3 linked regions of the Homo sapiens genome follow. The protein of the gene in region 2 purifies or fractionates together with the protein of the main gene of each other region. This does not show direct contact. Each region holds a gene or a part of one and is shown on either strand. Other genes may lie near its edges. The genes, in order: NAF1, SMOC1 and UBR2.

The links.
Region 1: the proteins of SMOC1 (region 2) and NAF1 purify together in Homo sapiens (affinity purification with mass spectrometry; 2 studies listed by BioGRID and IntAct, with this or other methods). This does not show direct contact.
Region 3: the proteins of SMOC1 (region 2) and UBR2 purify together in Homo sapiens (affinity purification with mass spectrometry; 2 studies listed by BioGRID and IntAct, with this or other methods). This does not show direct contact.

The regions. Positions count from the first base shown.
Region 1 is NC_000004.12:163,128,574-163,136,439, reverse strand, and holds the end of NAF1 (H/ACA ribonucleoprotein complex non-core subunit NAF1), read left to right. Parts: intron 1-3,183; coding exon 3,184-3,286; intron 3,287-7,091; coding exon 7,092-7,543; 3' UTR 7,544-7,771; downstream 7,772-7,866. UniProt on the Homo sapiens protein: RNA-binding protein required for the maturation of box H/ACA snoRNPs complex and ribosome biogenesis.
Region 2 is NC_000014.9:69,874,413-69,882,415, forward strand, and holds the start of SMOC1 (SPARC-related modular calcium-binding protein 1 isoform 1 precursor), read left to right. Parts: upstream 1-5,003; 5' UTR 5,004-5,266; coding exon 5,267-5,365; intron 5,366-8,003. UniProt on the Homo sapiens protein: Plays essential roles in both eye and limb development. Probable regulator of osteoblast differentiation.
Region 3 is NC_000006.12:42,559,189-42,567,490, reverse strand, and holds the start of UBR2 (E3 ubiquitin-protein ligase UBR2), read right to left. Parts: upstream 3,463-8,302; 5' UTR 3,172-3,462; coding exon 3,094-3,171; coding exon of another isoform or gene 2,960-3,093; intron 1-2,959. UniProt on the Homo sapiens protein: E3 ubiquitin-protein ligase which is a component of the N-end rule pathway.

The sequences.
Region 1 (7,866 bases), on a different chromosome or scaffold from region 2:
AAATATTTTTATAAGTAAAAATTATACATGAGAGTTTTTAAAGCTTGCTCAGCAGTTCTTATGAAGTTTTCTCAGTATTACAGTTTTTTTTTTGTTTTTTTTTTTTTTAACAAATATAGACATGGGGGTCTCAGTGTGTTGCCCAGGCTGGTCTCAAGCTCTTGGCCTCAAGTGATTCTCCAGCCCTCAAGCAAGCTTCTGCCTTGGCTCCCCAAAGTGCTGGGATTACAGGCATGAGCCCCTTGCCCAGCCAGTATTACAGATTTTTGATACTTACCGATTTAACCTTGGCCATTTTAGATGTTTAAAGCAATCGTAAATCATGATCTGTGTTTCTAATTTTACTGAGGTATGAATCAGGTTTATGCCCACTTGGAGGGTTCTATACAGGTATGAATCACTTAACCAGTGAATGATCCTTGCTTAGTATCTGAATTGAAATGGAATTATGTTTTCTAATTAATGTTATGTATTTATGTGATTTCAGTTAAGGCTCTGAATATTCACTTAATGTTCTGAATTAAGTTTTAGAGTATCTATAGCATCTTATTACTGGAATTACATGTTTTAAACGTGTTTAGAGATTCATAAACATCTCAAATCATATTTCTTTTAAAATCCAGATATTCTTTTTTTCTTTTTTTGGGTAGGGGATGGAGTTTTGCTCTTTCTGCCCAGGCTGCAATGCAGTGGCACGGTCTCAGCTCACCGCAAACTCTGCCTCCGGGTTCAAGCAATTCTCCTGCCTCAGCCTCCTGAGTAGCTGAGATTACAGGCGCATGCCACCACGCCCAGCTAATTTTGTATTTTTATTAGAGACGGGGTTTCACAATGTTGTCCAGGCTAGTCTTGAACTCCTGACCTCCAGTAATCCACCCCTCTCTGCCTCTCAAAGTGCTGAGATTTCAGGCGTGAGCCACCGCACCTGGCCAAAATCCAGATATTCTAATGAATCCCTCTTGTTTCGGACCTAAGCATTGAAGTTACCAATTACAACAATGCGAGTTATTTGTAAAATTGGTTTGACTAGGTTAATTGCAAAATTACATCTCACCTAGTTCATGGTGTTTGTTTTTTCCAGGTAGCTTGAACTGGATCATTAAGTATCTTGGGATTTAATTTTGTAATATTTGTTGGTGAAACTTTGTAGTCTAGAATTATTGCCTGGTATTGATCATAGATTAAAATTAGAAATTTGTGAGGTTTAAACTTAAAAAGAGAAAAAGGAGAAACATTGCGTGATGTGAAAATAGAAAGCTTGCATAAAGGAAAATAAGAGAAATTATGTGCTATGAAATGTTGGGCTGCATAAAGGACCTAAAAATTACCTACGGTTGTATCATGTTCATCTTCATAGCCATTTTTAATATGCCACCGTATACTTTATGGTTGAATAAATGTATTTAATGAATGGAAATTTGAATTAATTTGCATATAAGAAACATGAATTTTTCTCTGATTTTAGGAGTGATAGCAAAATACTACCAGAGTAATCTCTCTGAAATAAACTATTCCCAATTAAAATCCTTACTTCCTCCCTCCTGCTCTTAAGATGATGTTCAATTATTTAAAATGGCACAATAAGGTTCTTTGTAAGCTTCTCCAATTTTATTTTTTCTGGTTTTGCCATGTAAGAAGCAGCAGCTTTCACTTTGCCTTTCAGAACCATTTTTCTTTTTTGTATATACTGTTCTATCATGCCTCTGTGTGTATTGTTCACATTTTCTGAAAATTCCCTTTATTTTCATAGCTAACTCATTCAGGTATTTCTGTTGGGTTATCCATACCAAGAAGTCTATCTTTTCCTTTTTTCTCTTTATCCAGCACTATAATAACATAGCATTAAGTCGTAGCACTTGTTCATTGTACATTTAATCTGTTTTCTCAGAAAAAGGAGTCTTCTATCTGATCTCCATACTTTCTAGTGTCTTTCAGATACCAGATTTAACCTGAGTTTTAAAATCTTATCGTATTAAGATCAGTAATAAGAAATTATGCATTGGAAGGCATACAATTAGTTCATGTTTTCAAATTAGATTTCAGAATCTGAAGTGTATGGATTCCTGGTTCATGGAGGATTTGATCTAGAATGTATTCCAGTGAAGCCATACTGAAAATTACATACAAAGACTTTCATATACATTTTATTTCTTCTTTTTAAATGTGTATCCATCCATATATGGTGGGCCTGCTTTCATATATTTTTTGTATGAAACATAATAGACGTTTTCTGGCATTAATAGAATAATAAATTAATAGAATAATTAATAGAATAATAAAATGCCTGAACTATAGATGACAGTCATAATATATATAGCTCATAATCTTGGTTTTCTTGGTGGACTATAACAATGAATCCTAATAATTAGTTAATGTGAGTTTTACCACCTTTAATTTTTAAATAATTTCCTCTTAGGAGTTGGATCATTCATGTATCTGCTTATAAAAGCCTTTGCCATGTTGATCAGGCTGGCCTCAAACTAAAAATACAAAAATTAGTTGGGCATGGTGGCGTGCGCCTGTAATCCCAGCTACTCAGGAGGCTAAGGCAGGAGAATCGCTTGAACTTGGGAGGCAGAGGTTGCAGTGAGCTGAGATTGCACCACTGCACACACACACACAAAAAAGCTTTTGCCTATGGTTTTATCTAAATAGCTTCCCCATGATTTGTATACCCTTATTTTGCCTTATTTATTTATAACTCTTGCTCTGTACCTAAAATTATATTTAAAAAATAAGATGGTAAACCTGTAAAGAATGAACCTGTGAAATGTTTAGAACAGTGCTTGGGTGTGTATTTTGAATGAATGAATTATGGAACATTGTCTTCTGTTTTTTATTGGCTCTGATAATATATATAATTTGCTTAGTCCTTGATACTCTTACCTTTGGCACCCTTTTGCATCTGATACTATGATGAATTTTAAGTCTAAACTGGAAGTCAGACTCATATCTGAAGGCTGATTACTGGCCTGTGTTAATTAAAGTCATTAAGCATTTATCAAAAAATGCTTTATTTTTATACCATGTCTAATTCAGATATAGAAAATATTAAGTATCAAAAAGACAACTTTTTTTAGAGTCATTGATGCATAATAGGCTTATTTTCTTCACCTCCAAGTATGTACTATTGAATTGGCAAATTCATGTAACATAAACCTATTATATACTTTTCTCTGCAAGGCCTTAGATTTTAGTGATGATGAAAAAGAGAAGGAAGCCAAACAGAGGAAAAAATCTCAGATTCAAGGCCGGAAAAAACTCAAATCTGAATTTAATGAGCCTGGTGAGTGAATACAATATATATACTCGTTCTTTATCTTCATTTACATCTATATAAGTTTATCAATAATAAAACTGAAGGAAACATCTGGGTTCTCTCTGTTTACCTCCTAGCATCCTGCTAACATTTAGAGCCATTACATAGCAGGAGGTGTGGTAGTTTTATGAGCTTAAGCAGTAAAAATGGCTTCCTGGGGTAACAGAGAGACTAAACCTTGTTACTCGTGCTTGTCAGCACTTTTTTCTTAAGATACCTATTTGCTTCCATTTTTAGGATTTTATGATCAAGTACTTGATGAACCCCTAAATCACAGTGTCTTATTTTTAAACATGCATTCCCTTTACCTTTTTTGAAAATTAAACTTTCTGAGATAACCATAGATTCACATACAGTTGTAAAAATAATAGGAGAGGTGCTGTATGCCCTTTATTCAGTTTCCCCCAGTTGCAACATCTTGCATAACTATATATGGAACACTGTCCCAGCCAGGATATTGACAGTTATACAATGAAGCTATACAACATTTCCATCACCAGAGAGCTACCCAGTTGCCTCTTTATAGTCACAGCCACGTCCTTACCTCTCAGCCCCTCCTTCACTCATGGCAACCATTAATGTGTTCTCCATTTTCATATATTTTGTCATATCCAGAAAGTTATATAAGTGAAGTTATACACTGTAGTACGATTAGGGAAAGGCTTTTGCCACTGAGCGTAGTATCTGTGCATCCACCCACATTATTGCATGTATCAATAATAGTTTGTTCCTCTTCATTACAGAGTAACATTTCATGGCATGAATTTACCAGATTACCTAACCATTCATCCATTGAAGGACATCTAGGTTGTTTCCATTTTGGGGTTATTAGGAATAAAGCAGCTATAAATATTTATATACAGGTTTTTTGTGAAAAGAGGTTTTCATTTTTCTGGAATAAATGCCCAAGAGTATAATTGCTTGGTTGTATAATAGTTGCATTACATGTTTAGTTTCCTAAGAAACTACCATACTGTTCTTCAGCATGGCTATACCATTTTACATTTTTATCAGCGATGTATGAGTGACAATTTCTTTGCATTTTCTCCAGCATTTGGTGTTATCACTGTTTTTAATTTTGGCCATTCTGCTAGGTTTGTAGTGCTAATATAATTGTGGTTTTAATTTGCATTTTCCTAATGGCTAATGGCATTGAACATCTTTCCATGTGTTCATTTACTATCGGTATCTTCAGTGATATGTCAGTTCATTATCTTTTGCCAACTTTTAAATTGTATTGCTGGATTTTTACTGTCGAGTTACGAGAATTTAAAAATGTATATTTTAGATACTAGCTTTCTGTCAAATATTTGGTTCGTTCATGATTTGTTCTAGTCTGTAGTCTTTTCCTTCTTTTAAGATGGCCTTTTGCAATACTAAAGTTTTTAGTTTTGAGGAAAACTAATTTATCAATTTTGTTTATGGAATCTGAGAACTTCCTGCTTAGCTTTAGATCCTAATGATTTTCTTCTATTTTTTCCCTAAAAGTTTTGTAGTCTTCTGTTTTAAATTGTACACTTGTGATTCATTTTGAGTTAAATTTTGTATAGAATGTGAGGTTAGTCTTAAAATTGCGTGGAGTGATAACTCCTACTTTATTTCTCTTTTTCAAAATTATAATCGGTATTCTAGGTCCTTTACCTTTCAGTATAAATTTTAGAATCTTCTCTACATCAACAAATGTCTTGCTGAGGTTTTTTTGTTTTTGTTTTTGTTTTTGTCTGTTTTTTGAGATATTCTTGCTCTGTTGCCCAGGCTAGAATGCAGTGGTACAATCATAGCTCACTGTAACCTTGAACTTCTGAGCTTTTTTCTTTCATTCTCCTGATAGTATCTTTCGTGGAGCAGAAATTGTTAAGTTTAATGAAATTCAGCATATTGATTATTTCTTTCATGGGTCATGCCTTTGATGTCCTATCTAAGAAGTCATTATCTAAAAAGTCATTATTGGCCGAGCGCAGTGGCCCAATGCCTGTAATCCCAGCACTTTGGGAGGCCGAGGCAGGCAGATCAGGAAGTCAGGAGTTCAAGACCAGCCTGGTCAACATGGTGAAACCCCATCTCTACTAAAAATACAAAAATTAGCTGGGCATGGTGGCGCATTCCTACTTGGGAGGCTGAGGCAGGAGAATTGCGTCAGCTGGGACCCGGGCAGCGGAGGTTGCAGTGAGCTGAGATCGTGCCACTGCACTCCAGCCAGGGCTACAGAGCGAGACTCCGTCTCTAAAAAAAGAGTCATTATCAACCCAAGGTTGTCTAAATTTTCTTCTATGTTATCTTTTAGGAATTTTGTAATTCTGCATTTTACATTGAGGTCTGTGGTCCATTTTGAATTAATTCTTGTGAACGGTGTAAGGTTATTGTCTAGATTTATTCTTTTTGCATGTGGATGTCCAGGTGTTCCAGCCCCATTTGTTGAAAACACTACTTATGCTCTGTTGTATTGCTTTTGCTCCTTCGTTAAATATCCGTTTATTATGTTTATGTGGGTCTATTTTTGTATGTTTATGTGGGTCTATTTTTGTACCTTCTATTTTGTCCCATTGATTTATTTGTGTGTCCTTTCACCAGTACCACACTGCTGTGATTACTTAAACTTTATAATACGTCTTGAAGTTGGGTAGTTTCCGTCCTCCAGCTTTGTTCTTCTCCTTCAATATTGTTCCATTGAGTTTTTAATTTTGGTTATTGTAATGTTCAGTTCTAAAATTGCAATTTGTTCTTTATTTTATATCTTCTTTTTTTCCTAAAACTTTGTAATTTTAATTTTTTAGAATGTTCATAATATCTTGTTGAAGCATTTTTATGACTGCTTTAATACCTTTCATAATTCTAACATCTTTGTGACACCCTTGCTTGATTTATTTTTTTCATTGAATTTGAAGTCTTCCTGGTTCTTTTTGTGATGAGCAATTTTCTTTTATTGCAACCTGGGTATATTGAGTATTATATTACAAGACCATGGATCTTATGTAAATCTTCTGATTTAGCTGGGTTTGTTGTGATTGTTTCTTTGTCTTTTTAAAAATGCTACTCTGGCAGCGAAAGGAACAGGGTAGATTGAAGTCTAGGTATTCCTCTTAGCCTCTGTTGACACCTTTGGCCAAGGGGTGCCTTGTTACTGCTGGATGAGGGTAGAAGTTCTGACATCCCACGAGGTCTTATGCCTGGTAGGGACAGGAGTACTTTGTCACTCCTCCCCATATGGTATGCACTGACACCAGTGGAGGATGGCCTTGTTATCACTGGTTGGGGACAAAAATCCTAACTCTACTCCATCTTCTCTGACATTGCCCCAGTGTAAAAGAGGGAAGAACACTGGGTTGCCGCCAGTGGAGGTGGAAGTTCAGGTTCCCCATGTGATGTTCATTGTTTGCAGGGAGGCTTGTTACTGGCACCCTGTTCAGCCTGTTCCTGATGCTACTGTGGTGGAAGGGTTGGAGTACCTCATTACTGCCTGTCAAGGATAGAAGTCTAGGATCTGTACTCAGCCTTTGAGAGTGTGTAGGGATGGTGCCACATTTTCTTCTGTGGTGTTTGGCTAGAGTAGAATGGTTATCATCTAAGTGTTTTCTGACTTGCTGGGTTCTCTTTCTTTGGCATTAAGTTTTGTCTTTTCAGTTCATTTCAAATTTACCATTTTATGTCTTACACTTTTTTAACTGCCACAAGATATACTGGATAATAAAAATCATAATTGAAATTTCAAACAATGCTTTTTGATATATTAAACTTATTTTCCTTTTTATGTTTTCCCTCCCCTCACTCAAAGGTGAAGATTTTACTGAAGTACATCAGAATTGGAATGCTCATAGCTCTGCTTCAGAGCATGCAAAAGGATATCGTAACAGAGAATTCACACGAGGATTTTCCAGGGCCAGATACCCTCGATCTTGCCATGGCAGGCCTCCACCTCAGCATTTCTATAACTCAGAACATATGGTATCTCAGGAGACTTCAGGATTTCCTTCTCAGAGACAAAATAATCCCATTATGCCACAATACCCCTTTCCTCTTCCAGTGTTTGACATGCATAATTTTCCCCTCCGCCCTCCACCCCCACCACCACCCCCACCTGTAAACATGGGTTGGGCTACACCAAACATGGCTGCTCATCCATTACTTAACTTACCATACTCCCTACCCCCACCCCCTCCCCCTCCACCACTGCCTCCTCCACCCTCTTCTGGAGATAGTAATTCTCATTTTGGACCTTACTATTAGGTGACTATGCATTTCCAGAGAAATGTGGACTTTTCATATTATGTGGTAAGGATTTTTTTTTTTCAAGAGTGATTATGGAGCTAGATTTTTAAAAACACTGTAAAATACTAAATGATTCCTTCTGTTGTAAGTTGATATATATTTGTAACCTTTGTGAAATTGTATTCATATGAAAATGTCAGCTCAAATTCTTGGGAGAACATTAAATTATGTAATATTTAATTAAAATTTTGAATTCATGCCTTCTCCCTCCCAACCCCACCCAGTTAAACTATATATATATATATATAGTAATGGATATGGGACAAGTTTCATCATGGGTA
Region 2 (8,003 bases):
TATCTCCCAAAGGACTCATCTCCCAAGGCCATCACATGGAGCTGGTAGACTTTCAACATATGAATTTCAGGGAGACATATTTAGTCCATAAGAGCCATTAATATTTTCGAGTACCAGGGAGCTGGGTCTGCAGAACTAGAGGTAAACCACAGCTTGAATGCTGTGGCCTCCTTTTGTTTGGCAACTCAAGGACGACTCATGAGGATGGCCTCTACTTCTAATTGTGTCCCAGAATTGTATCCTTTCTTAGTAACATAAACGTTGACTTTTAGCTGTACACATGTGGTCACCTCCAATTAGGATTACATTTTTTAAAGCCCTTTTTTGCTGAATGTGGTCATATGACCAAGTTCTAGCCAATGAGACAAAATGAAACGTGACTTCTGGGAGGTGTCCTTAAAAAGAGGAGCATGCTCTTCTTTCCTCTTTTTCCTTCCTGTTGGCTGGAAAATAGATATGATGGCTGGGGCTTAAGCAATCATCTTGTACCACCAGGTAGAGCTGCTTATTATGACAGAGAAATAATAGAAGGAGCCTGGCTTGGAGGAAGCTGCCCGAAACTTTCAATGGAGTTGTGTACCAAAGAGAGAGCTAAATTTCTAAATTGTTTGTCACTCGAATTATTTTTGTCATGTGTATTTAAAGCTAAAGGAGTGACTTTGGTAAGGTTAAATGTCTGCGGGTAAACTTCATTTGCACACTGGGACTAATAATACTTACCTTAGCCTAATGCTAAGGTTACAGCAAGTTAGTCATAAATCTAAAAGCAGAACCTAGGAATCTTAATGTCTCAAGCTTCTAAGCTCACTAGTGTTTTTGACAAAAGTCTTGGACCTTAGATACAGTGTACCTCTTTCCATTGGTAGCTATTGTAACAAATGAAGCAAATATAAATCAGGATATATTTATGTTATAGAAGCACTCTGCTCCAGAGCCTCATTCAGGATCTACCTCCATCATGAGACCTTCCTGCCCATTAGGCCTACAGTGGGTCATCTCACTCTGAGTTCCTACAACACACTGCAGGCTTTACTCTTTTTTTTTTGAGACGGAGTCTCACTCTGTCGCCCAGGCTGGAGTGCAGTGGCGCAATCTCGGCTCACTGCCAGCTCCGCCTCCCAGGTTCACGCCATTCTCCTGCCTCAGCCTCCCCAGTAGCTGGGACTACAGGCGCCCGCCACCACACCTGGCTAATTTTTTGTATTTTTAGTAGAGATGGGGTTTCACCGTGTTCGCCAGGATGGTCTCCATCTCCTGACCTTGTGATCTGCCCTCCTCGGCCTCCCAAAGTGCTGGGATTACAGGCATGAACCACCGTGCCTGGCCAGCTTTACTCTTAAATGTGGTCCCCAGGTATCTCTCTGGTCTGTGTCTTAAATTAGATGGTAACCTCTCAGAGGGCTGGGTGTGCATCCAAAGATCCATCATAATAATGAACATTGTGCAAGGCGTAGAAGGAGGTGCATCAAAGTGCTTACTAAAAATGGATGAAAAGATTCTATTCTGAAGATGAGATGAGGAAAGAATCCTCTGGATTATATAGAAACACAGATATATATATATATATTTCTTTTTTTCTAGATGGAGTCTCGCTCTGTTGCCCAGGCTGGAGGGCAGTGGTATGATCTTGACTCACTGCAACCTCCATCTCCCAAGCAATTCTCCTGCATCAGCCTCCCGAGTAGCTGGGATTACAGGCATACACCACTGCACCCGGCTAATTTTTCTATTTTTAGTGGAGATGAGGTTTTGCCATGTTGGCCAGTCTGGTCTCAAACTCCTGGCCTCAAGTGATCTGCCCACATCGGACTGTCAAAGTGCTGGGATTACAGGGGTGAGCCACCGCGCCTGGCCAGAAACACAGATATATTTGAAACTGGCATTTCTAGTTAGTACTAAATATTTGAGGCCTTCAGACCTCAATCTGTGATATAAAGTATTAATTTTCATCTACTGAAATATCCCATTGCAAATAGAAGTCCCACAAGACAAGGAGTATGACTGAAACTGGACAAACCAGATGCCAAGATAGTCAGATTATTTTTGGACCATGAGTCTGGCCTCCAGGGAAAGAAGAAACTTGTCAATTTTACTTTTTTTGCTTGGATCAGAAGATTAAGCCTGGCAGAGAGATACTGTTTGGGACTAGTGGTTCTCTGGAATTCCTAACCTTCTCTGGGCTTGGGAGGAGTTGGGAGAAGAAAATGCATCATCTGAATGATGGCCATGGTTACAACAGGCCTCATATGCCAACCAGAGGGAAAGAAAATACTTGCTGAGCAGAGTAACTGGAAAGCAGTTGCTCATAGTTTGAACTAAACTACATGATTGAAATCCAGAATAATGTAGATTTTTGGACCAGTGAACACTTGGAAATAAGCTTTCTGGCTGGAAAGCAGCATTTGATGTTAGGGATGGAAAGGGCTATTGCAATGCTTTTTCCCTGGGCACTTTGTGCTGCCAGATACTCAGGGCCATCTGAAGCATATTTACTTACTCCAGCAGATTTCTCAATAGTTCCAGCAACAGGAAGGAGTTGACCAGCTTGATAGGTGAATGTAGCCAGGTGGTAGAGTCAGGAAAAGCCTGTCACACTGCTGAGCCCGATGGTAACAGTTCCATCCTGTTGAGCCCCTGGAGGGTGAACACTTAGGTGGACACATGGATATTGATGTCAGTGCTGCACAGGGCACGGTACTGGACAAGTGTCACAAGTCCAGCTGGGCAAACTCCAGGATGCCAGGTCACAAGGGCTGTTTCCAGGAAGGGCTGACCCCTGATGTTTACATCCTTTTCCTCTGAAGCTCAGTGGAGCTCACCAGTCTCAGTTCACCTTGTAGGCCACTGAAGAAATTCCCAATTAGCACAGAGGAACGTCCAACCCTATGGGATTTGAGACTGGAGATTGCAGCCATCACATGATGGAAGCAGAATTAGACTCCAAAAACCTTGCCTTGAGTCTCGGCGTCTCGGCTCTGTCATTTGCCAGCCAAATGAGGCCAGGCAAGTCACAATCTCATGGAGTATTCACTTATCTACCTGTAAAGTAGGAATGTCTGACCTATTTCAGAAGATTGTTCTGAGGATAAAATGAGATGAGGCATTTGTCCTGTCCTCTTCAAATGCCATATTGTGATACTTTTCACTTAATTATTTTAAGGGCTTTAAAGACTCCATCTCCTTTACTTTTGACAACATCTCATGGCAGGGGATACTATTTTTATCCCCATTTTACAGAGAGAAAAACGGGACCCTGGATGAGTCAAGTGACTTCTTCAAGCTTATACCACTAGGTGGCAGACTCAGGATTTGAACCCTGCTGTACAGCTCCAGAGTCTGTCTGACCAAAGCACTCATTCCCAGTGGAGGAAAAGATAGACCATTCTTTTAGAAGTGCGCTTCATTTTTGTTTGGAGAACCACAAGTACTTTGTTATTGTTCCAGCATCCAGTCTGAGCTTTCTTGTCAGAGGGCAATGGGGAGAGGGGAAGTCGTTTAAGCAGGGAATGGTGAGTTCCGGTTTGCTGCTTAAAAGGATCACTGGCTTCTAAATAGCGAATAGACACACTGGCTGCCGTGTGGAGGTTGGATGGGGCCAGTGTGGAGAGAGGGCAAAACTGAATTCAGGAGTCAGGTGCGAAGCTGTTTCATGGAATCCAGGAGAGAAGCCCTGAGGGAGCAGAGCTAATCTTAGGACCTCTCAGACCAGATAGGGAGGGGGAGTGTGGCACTGATGCTTACAATCAAATTATAGAAAAGAATCCCTCCCTGCGAAGTAGCCCATACTGATGGAAGTAAGCACTAAAGGTTGTTCTCCACATAAGGAGATCGCTCTGGGTTTCATTTTGCGCCCCCCCGCCCCCTTCCCTGTGATTTCCTGGAGATGTCAGTCTCACTGAAGGCAGCTGAGCACCTTGCTCTGTTGAGGAGCCGGTGTGATGCAGCTGTGACCATTCCCAAGATGGCCTTCCGGGGATGGCCCTGGGCAGAGCCCCCCAACATCTGACTGAAGCTCCGCTGAGCTGTCCTCTCCAAGAGGGTCGGGCACCCGGGAGAGATCTCCTCTCCTTGTTCTACCCCATCTCTGGGATCTCTGCATCCTCAGACTGCCGCCTCCTCATCTATACTTTTCCTCCTTGTCTCCCATCAGGGGACCAGGGCCTCTCTGCCCGCCTCTTCCAGAGCTGCTGGGCTATAGAGAGGCTGCCCCTTGCCCTCCAGTTCAGAGGGGGAAGCTAGGATGCCTGAGTTCCAATCCTGGATCATACGGACCATAGGGCTGGGAGATGTGTGTGTGTGTGTGTGTGTGTGTGTGTGTGTGTGTGTGTGTGTGTGTGTGTGTAGGGGGTTACCGTACCCAAGAGGCCCTCCCCAGCGGCCAATGCCCAGCACACGCTTCACCTTGTCCCTTGCGACTTCTCCCGGGGCAGCCGCTGTGAGACTCAGGATGTCACCTCCCAGGGAGAGTCTTTGAAAGAAGTGGATGCTCCCATTCCCCACTCCAACGCCACAGCCCACCCTGTGCGGGTCATCCAGCGACTTCCCAGTTACTCTTCCCAGATGCAGCAGGGAGGCAGATCTCTCGGCGCCTTCGTGTCACAGCATTCTCATCTGATAAATGGGGCTAGGAGTATTTTCCCTGCCTACTTCACCAGGATGTTGGGACAATCACGAGCTTGAGCTAAGAAATATACATGCTTAAGGCATTATTATTAGCCAGGTGAGCCTTCTGGTGGGTGCCGGCTGCTGGGGCTCTCTCAGGCTTCCTCGGGCAGGAGTGCCGGGAGAAAGTTACTCTTTATCCCACTCTCTCCCGGGGCCTACTCCCGCGGAGCTCCTCGGCGGGGGGTTGACCACGAGTGGCTCCTCTTGCCCCTCTCCCATTGGCTTTCACCTGCCAGAGGGTCGGCTTCAACAGGCCTCTTGGCCCGTCAATCAGGCCCGCCGTGCTCCGCCCCGCCCCTCCCGGGGGTTTATAACGGGAATTCCCATGGCCCGGGCTCAGGCGTCCAACCTGCTGCCGCCTGGGCCCCGCCGAGCGGAGCTAGCGCCGCGCGCAGAGCACACGCTCGCGCTCCAGCTCCCCTCCTGCGCGGTTCATGACTGTGTCCCCTGACCGCAGCCTCTGCGAGCCCCCGCCGCAGGACCACGGCCCGCTCCCCGCCGCCGCGAGGGCCCCGAGCGAAGGAAGGAAGGGAGGCGCGCTGTGCGCCCCGCGGAGCCCGCGAACCCCGCTCGCTGCCGGCTGCCCAGCCTGGCTGGCACCATGCTGCCCGCGCGCTGCGCCCGCCTGCTCACGCCCCACTTGCTGCTGGTGTTGGTGCAGCTGTCCCCTGCTCGCGGCCACCGCACCACAGGCCCCAGGGTAAGTGCGCCCCCAGCTTTGCGCCCACCTGCGGAGGGAGGGGAGGTTGCTTCCCCCCTCATCCCTGAGGGAAGGAGGAGGGGGAAGAGAGATGTCAGAGACCTGTTGTCCTCTGTCTACTACCAGGTCCCCTGCGGGCTTGGTGAAGTTGCTGAAATATTTTTTTTCTCCCATTGGAGCCACCACCACTCTCCCTTTCTTGACCCACCATCCCTCCCCTGTCCCCGAACTGTCACTGGTGGGTTTTCTTTCCCAATCTCTTCTCTCCTGCATTTTGCTCAAGACCCTCAGAGGTGCCTCCTGCGTCGGAGAGAAGCTCGCTCTCCGCTCATGCAGGGCTTCCCTGTGGTCTCACGCTGGCGCCCGGTCCAGCGCGCTGGAGTTGTTGGCAGGCGGCGGGGGTTGGGACGGGGGCGGGTGCAGCTCTGCCTGGAGAGTTTTAGGTTACCCGCGAGCCACACAAGGACCTTGTGTTGTTGTTTTAAAAAGCGATCACTGCTCGTAAAACCCACAGCAGATAATTTTAATGTCACCTCCTGCCGGGCAGGCACTGGAAGAGGGTCAGAGGTGGGGTACTGTAAAGAGGTGGGAGGGGAGAGTTGCGCAATGTTCAGGGGTCTCTCCCCCTGGGTTCAGTGCTGGGAGGTTGAATTACTCGTTGAACCTTGGTCTGATTGGAGTTTCTGAACGACATGAAACCTGCCAATTCTGTGCACAGGACAGATTGTCCAGGGCATTGTAAAATCTCCTGGAACCGACAGTATTGTGTTCATTTCTGGTCTAGATTATCCCCGCAACACCCCCCACCAATTGGTCTAATAAAGAATTTCACTGCCTTGAAACATGTACTATTAAACGACCTAGTGGTTCTTTTGACCAAACTTAATCCAGGCAATCTCTGGCCAAGCATCAGTTTATGTCAGGGCAATTGACTCTTAACTGGCAGCCTGAGAGTCCATGTGAAAGTAGCTAGGATCTTTGTGAAAACAAGGTTGGCTCAACCAACTCGTGCTTTCTTTCTTGAACATCCTTGGGCCTGGCCCTTTACCACCTGTTCAGATTGCAGGTTGTTTATTCATAGCTTTTACTATATGAGAATCATCTTTATAGCTGTCGTGTGGAGAAAAAGTCTTGCAATGCTTGACAAGTCTTAATGACTGCCCAGATGCTGGGTTGATTACATCCAAGCCCAGGTATCACTGTGAGATCAGATTTGCAGCCATTTAGGAAAGAAAAGTGTTTGTCCCCGTGTTGGGCCAGCCCTTGCTTTTATGACCAGATGTGCAACAGCAGCAGTTAAAGTGTGGCAGATTAGATCCAGGGCGTGTCATAAATCCTCGACAGCAGGCATTCCCAAAGCTGGGGCAAGTAAGGGCTCCAGGAGTGACTTTTATGGATGCAGATGAGGATGCCTTTTAAATGAAGCTGCTTGGTTTGATATTAGGACTCAGAGCTCTTAAACTCTGAGGTCAGGCGAGCCATGCGTTCCCTCCAATAATTAGGAACAGTCAAGACAGAGATGCAGACCAGAGCACCCCGACTGAAATCTGGATGGCCGCCCACAGGAGGGTCGAAAGGAGAGAGGCCCTGAGACAAATGGTGGGGGGCTCGTTTGTTTGCTGCTGGGCTTGTCTAGAGTCTCAAGCCATATGGCTCTCCTTCCTGGCCTCCTGGAATCAGAGGAAGCAACCTTTAGGGGAAAGCTAGGGACTTGAGGGGAAATCAGGCACCGTGGTTAGGTTCCTTCCAGCTCCTCTAGTTTATTAATTTGATAGAAGTGATGGAACGTAAGCAGGAATTGTAAATAGGCTGGTGTATGTCCAAGCTGCTTCACACTCTCTCTCTCCTTCTTTCTTTTTTTCCCTCTTTCTCTCTCTCACTCAAATACATACATGCACAAACACACACACACATGTGCACACACATCTTGGTGTGTTTAGAAAGTACCAAGGAGAAGGTGCTGTCTCGAGCATGTGGTTACCTGGTTGTGTTTATAGATAACAATAAGAGCTACCACTTATGAACATCTGGGCTGGGCACTTTACATGATCTCTTACTCGAACGAGAACAAGAAGTTGGGTCTTTTAAAAGCCATTTTACAGATGACAAAGTGAGACTCAGGGTGGCCAATCGACTTGCCTGAGCTTCCAGTTTATATGGATTGAAAAGTTGTGTGCTCTCCCCACCACCAGGCAGCTATAGTGAGTGTTCATCCGAGTGATGCTGTTTCTGTTAAAGAAAGAGATGGCTCGATGAGAAATACAGAACCCGGATACATCAGGGGAGTCTGCAGAGAAATTGTTAATATTTTTTTGGTGTCTGTATCACTTAAGGCAAATGACTGAATTTCAACCTATCCCCAAAGACTCCAGTTCTTTTCTATGGCTTATTGGGGGCCTCAAAAGTGTAGCTCTGGTTGTTGAGAGCGGCGTCATCCGAGGAGCAGAAACATCTGGCTTGTTGCATTATTCCCTGTGGGCGCTCCTAAGTCTCTTCTGTTAATCTTTTGAGTGACAGAGGCTTAAGGATTGGCATCTTTTCCAGCTGGCTTTCTAGGAAACCAAGAGCATGCCCTTTCAGTTTAACTTTATCTGGCTCACTAATTGAGCTCCCCCGAGGCCTAGACCCCAGTCCTCGC
Region 3 (8,302 bases), on a different chromosome or scaffold from region 2:
CCAAAGTGCTGGGATTACAGGCAAGAGCCACCACACCCGGCATGTTTACTTTTAAAACCGTAATCACTCACTGGAACATACTATAACCATATGTAGTATAGAAAGTAAACAGAGCCAAGAAGTGTTGGGAAAGTCATACTTATGGAGTCAATTCTAACAAGAAAAGAGAAGAATGAGAAGAGAGGGCCACTGTAATATCCTAAACTTACAAATATTAAAGAGTCAGCTTAGATACTTTTCTTTGTGAGGCATACTAGCTGGAATGGATGGGATCACAAAAAGTTCTTCCTCCTTATAACAGGAATAAGAAAAGCGGTGTGTAAATGAAATGTGGAAAGGTTGACACTAGTGCTCATTAGGTGATTTTTAAATGGAAGTGATCCTAACAAATTACCAATGACAGAGGTCTAAAGCCTACAATCACTGTTTTCTCTACTTGTTTCTCTTCCCTAAAATGTGCTTTCAACCTAAGAAAAAACTTTATTAATTTAAATGTGTGATAAAAAAGCTGAAGCCTAAGCTGAAAAAAACAGTTTTAAATGTTAGGTGTTTTAACTTAATACAGACAGTAAAGTCCTCACAAAGTAAGGCAAGATTAAGGTTATATAGTTGAAGGAATTTTATATTTTAATATTGGTTTTTGAGGTAGGAGGATCTCTTGAGCCTAGGAGGTCAAGGCTGCAGTGAGCTATGATAATGTCACTATACTCTAGTCTGGGCAACAGTGCAAGACCCCATCTCTTACCAAAAAAAGAAAAAAAAAAACTTATTGTTCAGAAAGGCATTTAAAAGTAAACAGGGTAGGCTGTGTGCGGTGGCTCACGCCTGTAATCCCAGGACTTTGGGAGGCCAAGGCGGACGGATAACCTGAGGTCAGGAGTTCGAGACCATCCTGGCCAATGTGGTGAAACCCTGTGTCTACTAAAAATACAAAAATTAGTCAGGCGTGGTGGCGTACGCCTGTAATCCCAGCTGTAATTCGGGAGGCTGAGGCAGGAGAATCACTTGAACCCCGGAGGCGGAGGTTGCAGTAAGCCAAGATTGCGCCATTGCACTCCAGCCTGGCGACAGAGCAAGACTGTCTCAAAAAAACAAACAAAAAAAGTAAACAGGGTAAAATGTAGCTCAGATTATGATCTTCACAAACTCAAATGAAGTCCAAATTAATAATTTTTTGTTGCATTTTCCTTGATTTTTCCTTACTGCATCTGCTTGAGAATTTCACTGAACAAGAACTAGGAGCACTGGCCTCCCGCACTACTTTTATAACCAGTTTCCTCAGGAGCCTCTACAAATTGGAGAACCTCTAATCACTTGATAGTTTGCACTTTTAGAATGGGATAACGGAATTTGTACCCTGTATCACTGGACCAAGACACAAAATTCAGTGAGAGAAAAAAAATCAAAACAGTACTTTGAGGTAAGCAACAGATATCAATTAGAAGAGGCATGGAGAGCAAACAGCTGTCATTATTATTTAACAGTTTACTTGTAACACTACTTTCATTTTCTTTTTTCAAATCTCCGATAAACGAAAGGCAGAAATTCCTTGAGTTGTACAACATTAAGTAGAAAGTAAATGAAAACAGACCTAGGCTAAACAAGTAAGTAGGTTTAAAAAAACACACCAAGGCAGGGCGCAGTGGCTCACGCCTGTAATCCCAGCACTTTGGGAGGCCCAAACAGGTGGATCACCTGAGGTCGGGAGTTTGAGACCACCCTGACCAACATGGAGAAACCCCAACTCTACTAAAAATACAAAATTAGCCGGGCGTGGTGGTGCATGCCTGTAATCCCAGCTACTCGAGGGGCTGAGGCAGCAGAATCGCTTGAACCCGGGAGACTGAGGTTGCGGTGAGCTGAGATCGCGCCACTGCACTCCAGCCTGGGCATCGAAAGCGAAACTCCGTCTCAAAAACAAAAACAAACAACAACAAAACACACCCAAACAAGCAAAGATTCAGCATTTAACAACGTATTTCTTTAAAGTCTTCACCTCTACTCCTGACATTTCTTTCTACCCGGACTTAATGTCCTCACCAATTCACGCAAAATAACTACTCACTGACCAACAGCTCCACAGTGCCCCCAATCCCAAATTTTGTTCGTAGCATTCAGATTGCTGACTTTTATTCACGGGTCACTCCCTTCCTAGCAGCCTTTTTAATTGGAGGTCTTAGAGGTGGGGCCCAAGCTGTCTTGGTCCATTCATAATCATTCTCGGCAATCTCTTCTAATGGGTGTTCCTACAACTCTGCTATTTACACTAGCATATTCATATTACAGTTTTAATGCAATAGTGCGTTTGAACGGTTTTACGTTTGGAATATAACTGCTCCTACTACACTGTGACCAGTTCTCACGTTTAGCTTATACAGTATTTGTTGAAAGCTGCTCTATCAACGTTATATAACATTTGTTCTCCATCCAATTACCCCTAACTCCTAGAAAAAATATTTTTAAAATTTCCCAGACTCCACGACTACTTTCTCATACTCAGTAAACTTTCCACACATGCATCAACGTTGTCAACTAATCAAACCGGTGCAAAAAAAAAAGATAGCACTGAAACGGATAACGAAGGGTAGTGTCGTTTGCCTTCTTGGTGCCTGGGGCAGTCCCAAAAACAAAAGAGGGGCTCGGTTAGGGTGGCATGTTTAGTCGGAGGAGCACACGGCTTCGCTTGTCTCAGGAAAAGCAATTAACTAGATAAACTAGGGCGATTATACCAAAAACACAAGAAGCGTCTCTTCTCCTCTTCCAAGAGCTGATATAAAGGGCAAAGGCCCATGTGTTGGGAGACTTAATGGGAGGCTGGGGGAAAGGAGGTATGATGGAAGAGCCGTGGGTTCTCCTGGGCAGAAAGGGAAAGTAAACGTAGTTAGTGCACAGCGCAGCTCTGGCAGCTGTTGAAAATGGAAAGAGAGGGGCAGGATCGGTGGCCTCCCCGGGCTATTACCCCACAAGGCGAGGGCCGGCACAGCTGTTTCCCCAAGTCTGGGTCGGGCTGCTCCAGGACGTCCAGGAGTCGGTTCCTCCCCACAGGCGCGGCCTGCGAGGGGCAGACGCACCCGCCCGGGTTCCGGCACTCACCCCCGCAATCTCCTCGGCCGAACATTCCAGCAAGCTCCGGTCGATGGCCTGCACCTCTGGCTCTAGCTCCGACGCCATCTTCTCTCCTCCTCCTCCCCAGCGCTACCGCCGCCCGGAGAGCTGCAGCCTCACCTCGGCCCCGGCGGCCTCGACTGCCACCCCTGCCCCAGGCAATCAGTCCCGGAGCCGTCCAAGTGGCTGCAGGTGGAGCAACAGAGGGAGAGAAGGGTGACGTGAACCGGAAAGGAAGGACAGCGGCCTCCTGCGCTCCCTCCCAAGCTTAGCGCCCAAGAGTCAAGTCACTGGCTCGTCCCTGACCCAGGGAAGGACACAGAAAACCCCAGGCCTGACACTCTCGCTGGCCACTACCGCGTCCTGCACCAGGAAAGGGGCAATAACACCCAGGAGGGGAAGCGGAGCTTTCTGGGTACTGTAGTTCTGGGTGCTGTAGGTACAGCACAGCCGGGAAAAAGGTGGCGCCCTAACACGGTGCCCCTCGAATGCATTGTGGGAGTTGTAGTCCATTCTCAAGGGGCGCTGGCTTAAATGGCAGATAAGCGGGCGGGGCTTTTCTGCCCAACGAGAATCATGGGAAGACAGTCGCGGAAAGCAGCGCCCCCTGGAAAAAAGCCAAAGAGAAAGATACTGTGGGAACTGTAGTTTTATTCTCCGAATCTCGTTTGTTCATTTTTGTATCCCCAGCTTCAAGAACACTGCCTGGCACATGGTAGACCCTCAAGGACTTGCCAGTCTGGCATAGGGTAGGCACTCAAATACTTGTCAAAGGAATGAATGAATTACATTCTATTCCTGTGGTTCTATGTCCTGTCATCCATCGAACCCATATCTTTTATACGAGTAATGGAGGTGAACATTACCCACTTTTTTGAAGGTTTAAAACATGTTTTAAAAAATTTTTCAAAAACTTTAGTGATGACCACTTATAAACTTTATCACAAATCTTGCTGCAAAGGAAAAAGAGTCTATTAGGCCAATTAAAAGATTTCCTCTTGATAGAGACATTTAATTTCTACAGATAATCAGACCAAGCTTGGTGGCTCATGCCTGTAATTCCAGCACTTTGGGAGGCCGAGGGGGGCAGACTACTTGAGCCCAGGAGTTTGAGACCAGTTTGGACAACATAGCGAGACCCTCTTGATAAAAATCAAAAAATTAGCCAGGTGTGGTGGCACGCCTGTAGTCCCAGCTACTCGGGAAGCTGAGGCAGGAGGATTGCTTGAGCCCAGGCAGTTGAGGCCATCGTGAGCTGTGATCAGCCCACTGCACTCCAGCCTGCGTGACACAGCTGAGACCCTGTATCAAAAAAGAAGGAAAAAAAAAAAAAAGAAATAGGTAAACATTGTTAGACTAGCTATCAAAGAAAACTATGTTTAGTTAAAGGTAATTAGACTCTTGACTGACAGCTGGGTGACTGGGCTTCTTAGAAGTCTTCAGTCTCTAGAGTTTGTCAGAAAATTGTTTATACCTTTTGTCAAGTGTGTTAATTTATTCCCAGAAGTAGGTTGTAAATTACATATAGGGGGGAAAAGTTCTGAGCCAGACCAGGTTTAGGACATGTTTATGTTTATGTTGTTTTGGGATTTTTTTTAAACCAATACTATGATATTAACCAGTTTTTTAAAAAAGGAAATAAGAAACTGCCTGTATCCCTGTAACCTCACAATACAAGTAAGCCTTCTTATCACTTTTTAAAAGTTATATATATATATACATATAAAACATCAGAAATTCAAACTCGAAAGGAATGTTTTAAAAAAGGAAAATTGAAAACTTCCTATTCCTCTTACCCCAAGTCCCTCTCCCCAAAGAAAATCATTTTTGACACTGTCTTATGAGTCTGTCCAGAAAAAAGTATGCACATATCTGTACAGATATTTATAATGAGATATCTTGAAATATTCTTCTATGTATTTTTCTTTTTTTGCCCAACTTCCTTACACTGATCCACTCAGGACAGAGTCAACTTGGAAGAAAACTGGGATTGTCCCAGCCTAGAAGCAAAAACAACATCTCTTGAGCTGTCCTAACATAGAATTTAAGTCGTTAATAGACTGTAAAGGCAATTTCTGTTCTTAACATTATTTGCTTCCTAACATTATTTGTTTCAGGCCGAGCATTGTGGCTCACACCTGTAATACCAAAACTTTGGGAGGCCAAGATTGGAGGATAACTTGAGGCCAGGAGTTTGAGACCAGCCTGGGCAACATAGCAAGACCCCATCTCTACAAAAAAATTTAAAAATTAGCCGAACATGGTGGCCCATGTCTGTAGTCCTAGCTACTTTGGGAGGCTGAGACAGGAAAGATCACTTGAGCCTAGGAGTTCAAGCCTGTAGTGAGCTATGACTGTATCACTGAACTCTAACCTGGGTGAAAGAATGAGAGCCTGACTCAAAAAAAAATTGTTTCCCTTGTGTGTCATAATTATGAATTTGGAGATCATCTTCACTTAGCATTAGTAGCATTAGCAGTGGGACTCTCCATGTATTAATACTTTCAAAATACTTTTTCATTTGCTTCTGCAAGGCCAGACAACCTAGAAAACATCGTATACTCAGGACCAGGCACTCTAGGAGTATCCTGTATCTAGGACCAATTGTACGTCAGTTTCTAGGCTTGAAGATTCCCTAATAGTATTAATTCAGTTGTGTGCCATTTCTCTGTCTATAATTTTTGTTTTTTTGAGACAGAGTCTCACTTTGTTGTCCAGGCTGGAGTGCAATGGTGCAATCTTGACTCACTGCAACCTCTGCCTCCCGGATTCAAGCGATTCTCCTACCTCAGCCTCCTAGGTAGCTGGGATTAGATGCGTTGGTGGTATAGTGGTGAGCATAGTTACCTTCTAAGTAGCTGGGATTATAGGCACGTACCATCATGCCTGACTAATTTTTGTATTTTTAGTAGAGACAGGGTTTCACCATGTTGGTCAGGCTGGTCTCAAACTCCTGACCTCAGGTGTTCCACCCACCTCAGCCTCCCAAAGTGCTGGGATTACAGGTGTGAACCACAGTGCCCGGCCTGTCTATGAATTTTTAAGGAGAGTTCTTTTTCCTACTCAGAGTCAAGGTAAAGAGCTTCTTTGTCATTTTTGTATGCCAGTTGGTGGGTTTTTTGTCTAGTCTACCCTTTCACTGATACGACATTCCTTTGAAAGCCCTGGCTTTATGTAGAGGATCTCAGTTGCAATTCCAATGTTTCTTTGACCCAGGGTCTTGTTTTCTGTTCCCATGGGGGCATTAAGAGCTAAGCCCCAACTTCCAGTTAAATGTGGCAGATTGAATACCTCATGACAGTAAAGGGAGAAAAAAAGAAAAGAAGAGAGGATGACAGCACCAAAATTTGGTGGAAAGCAAGTGGTTGAGAAGTAACTAAGAGAATGCTGAAACCTCCGCTAGCAGTAGAGACACTGAGTCAAGCTAATTAATATGCAGTACCCTGAAAGACTTAAAAATTTGAGGCACCATGTAACTCTGAAAGTGGGTGAAGACAATGCTAAAAGCAAGCTTATTGTTTGAAAGTCTGTATAGCAAGAAGTTAGATCTCACTTCCTACTCTGGAAGAAGACTAGAGCTTTATCCTCTAGAGTGACTACACTTGAGGGCCTTTTGACTGGGAGACACCAGACACAGCTGAGGACAGGGATACCGCACTGCATTCAAGAGAGATGAATCAAAGTCTACATAGTGAACAGGGATAACCTAGCTTATTTCCCCATTTGGCTCTGAGAACCTTAGTGGCCAGGCTTATACCTCCCAGGCAAGAGTTTGGGAGGGTCTTCTCCAGAGGGGTAGATTATCTCACCACCAAAAAAATCTGTAGAGGTCATGCCTGTAATCCCAGCACTTTGGGAGGCCGAGGCGGGTGGATCACCTGAGGTCAAGAGTTCAAGACCAGCCTGGCCAACATGATGAAACCCTGTCTCTACTAAAAATACAAAAAAAGCTGGGCATGGTGGTGGGCACCTGTAATCCCAGCTACTCGGGAGATTGAAGCATGAGAGTCGCTTGAATCCAGGAGGTGGAGGTTGCAGTGAGCCGAGATTGTGCCACTACACTCCAGCCTGGGTAACAAGAGTGAAACTCCATCTCAAAAAAAAAAAAAAAATTCTGTAGAGGATAAGACCCCAACAAAATGGTATAGTCAGTTCACCCCACCCATGCATAAAACTTCTAATCATATTTTTAGTAAGTCATTCTTAAATATGAAGACAGGCGGTTGTGTACAGATACTTGAGCAAAGCCTATGGAAGAGAGACTAAAACAAAAATGACGAAGGAAGAAACAGACACAAGTCAGAAAGTTGGAAAGAACTTTTACAAATGTTATTAAAAACACTGGAGGAGATAAGCAAAGATTTTATATCCAAGAAAGAAGTACAGGAGGCTAGGGAAAAGGAGTTTTTGTTTGTTTATTTGTTTGTTTTTGAGACAAAGTTTCACTCTGTCACCAAGGAATTTCACTCAATTTTTTTTCTTTCTTTTTTTTTTTTTTTTTTTAAATAGAGAGTCTCATTCTGTCATACAGGCTGGAGTGGGGTGGCATGATCTCAGCTCACTCCAACCTCCACTTCCCAGGTTCAAGTGATTCTTCTGTCTCAGCCTCCTGAGTAGCTGGGATTACAGCCACCTGCCACCACACCCAACTAATTAACTAATTTTTGTTTTTTTTTTTTCAGTAGAGACAGGGCTTCACCATGTTGGCCAAGCTGGTCTGGAACTCCTGACCTCAAGTCATCCGCCCTCATTGGCCTCCCAAAGTGCTGGGATCACAGGTGTGAGCCACGGCTCTTGGCCATAATTCAGTATTATTTAAATCACCTGAAGCATTGGAAAGAGACACTGAGTTCATCAATAAGGTTAAATACATTATGATGCAGGCCAGGCACGGTAGCTCATGCCTGTAATCTCAGCACTTTGGGAGGCTGAGGCGGGCAGATAGCCTGAGGTCAGGAGTTTAAGAGCAGTCTGTCCAACATGGTGAAAACCTGCTCTACTAAAAATACAAAAATTAGCTGGGCGTGGTGGCAGGCACCTGAATCCCAGCTACTTGGGAAGCTGAGGCAGCAGAATTGCTTGAACCTGGGAGGTGGAGGTTGCCGTGAGTCAAGATCACGCCATTACACTCCAGCCTGGGTGACAAGAGCGAAACTCTGTCTCAAAAAAAAAAAAAAGAAAGAAAGAAAAGAATCAT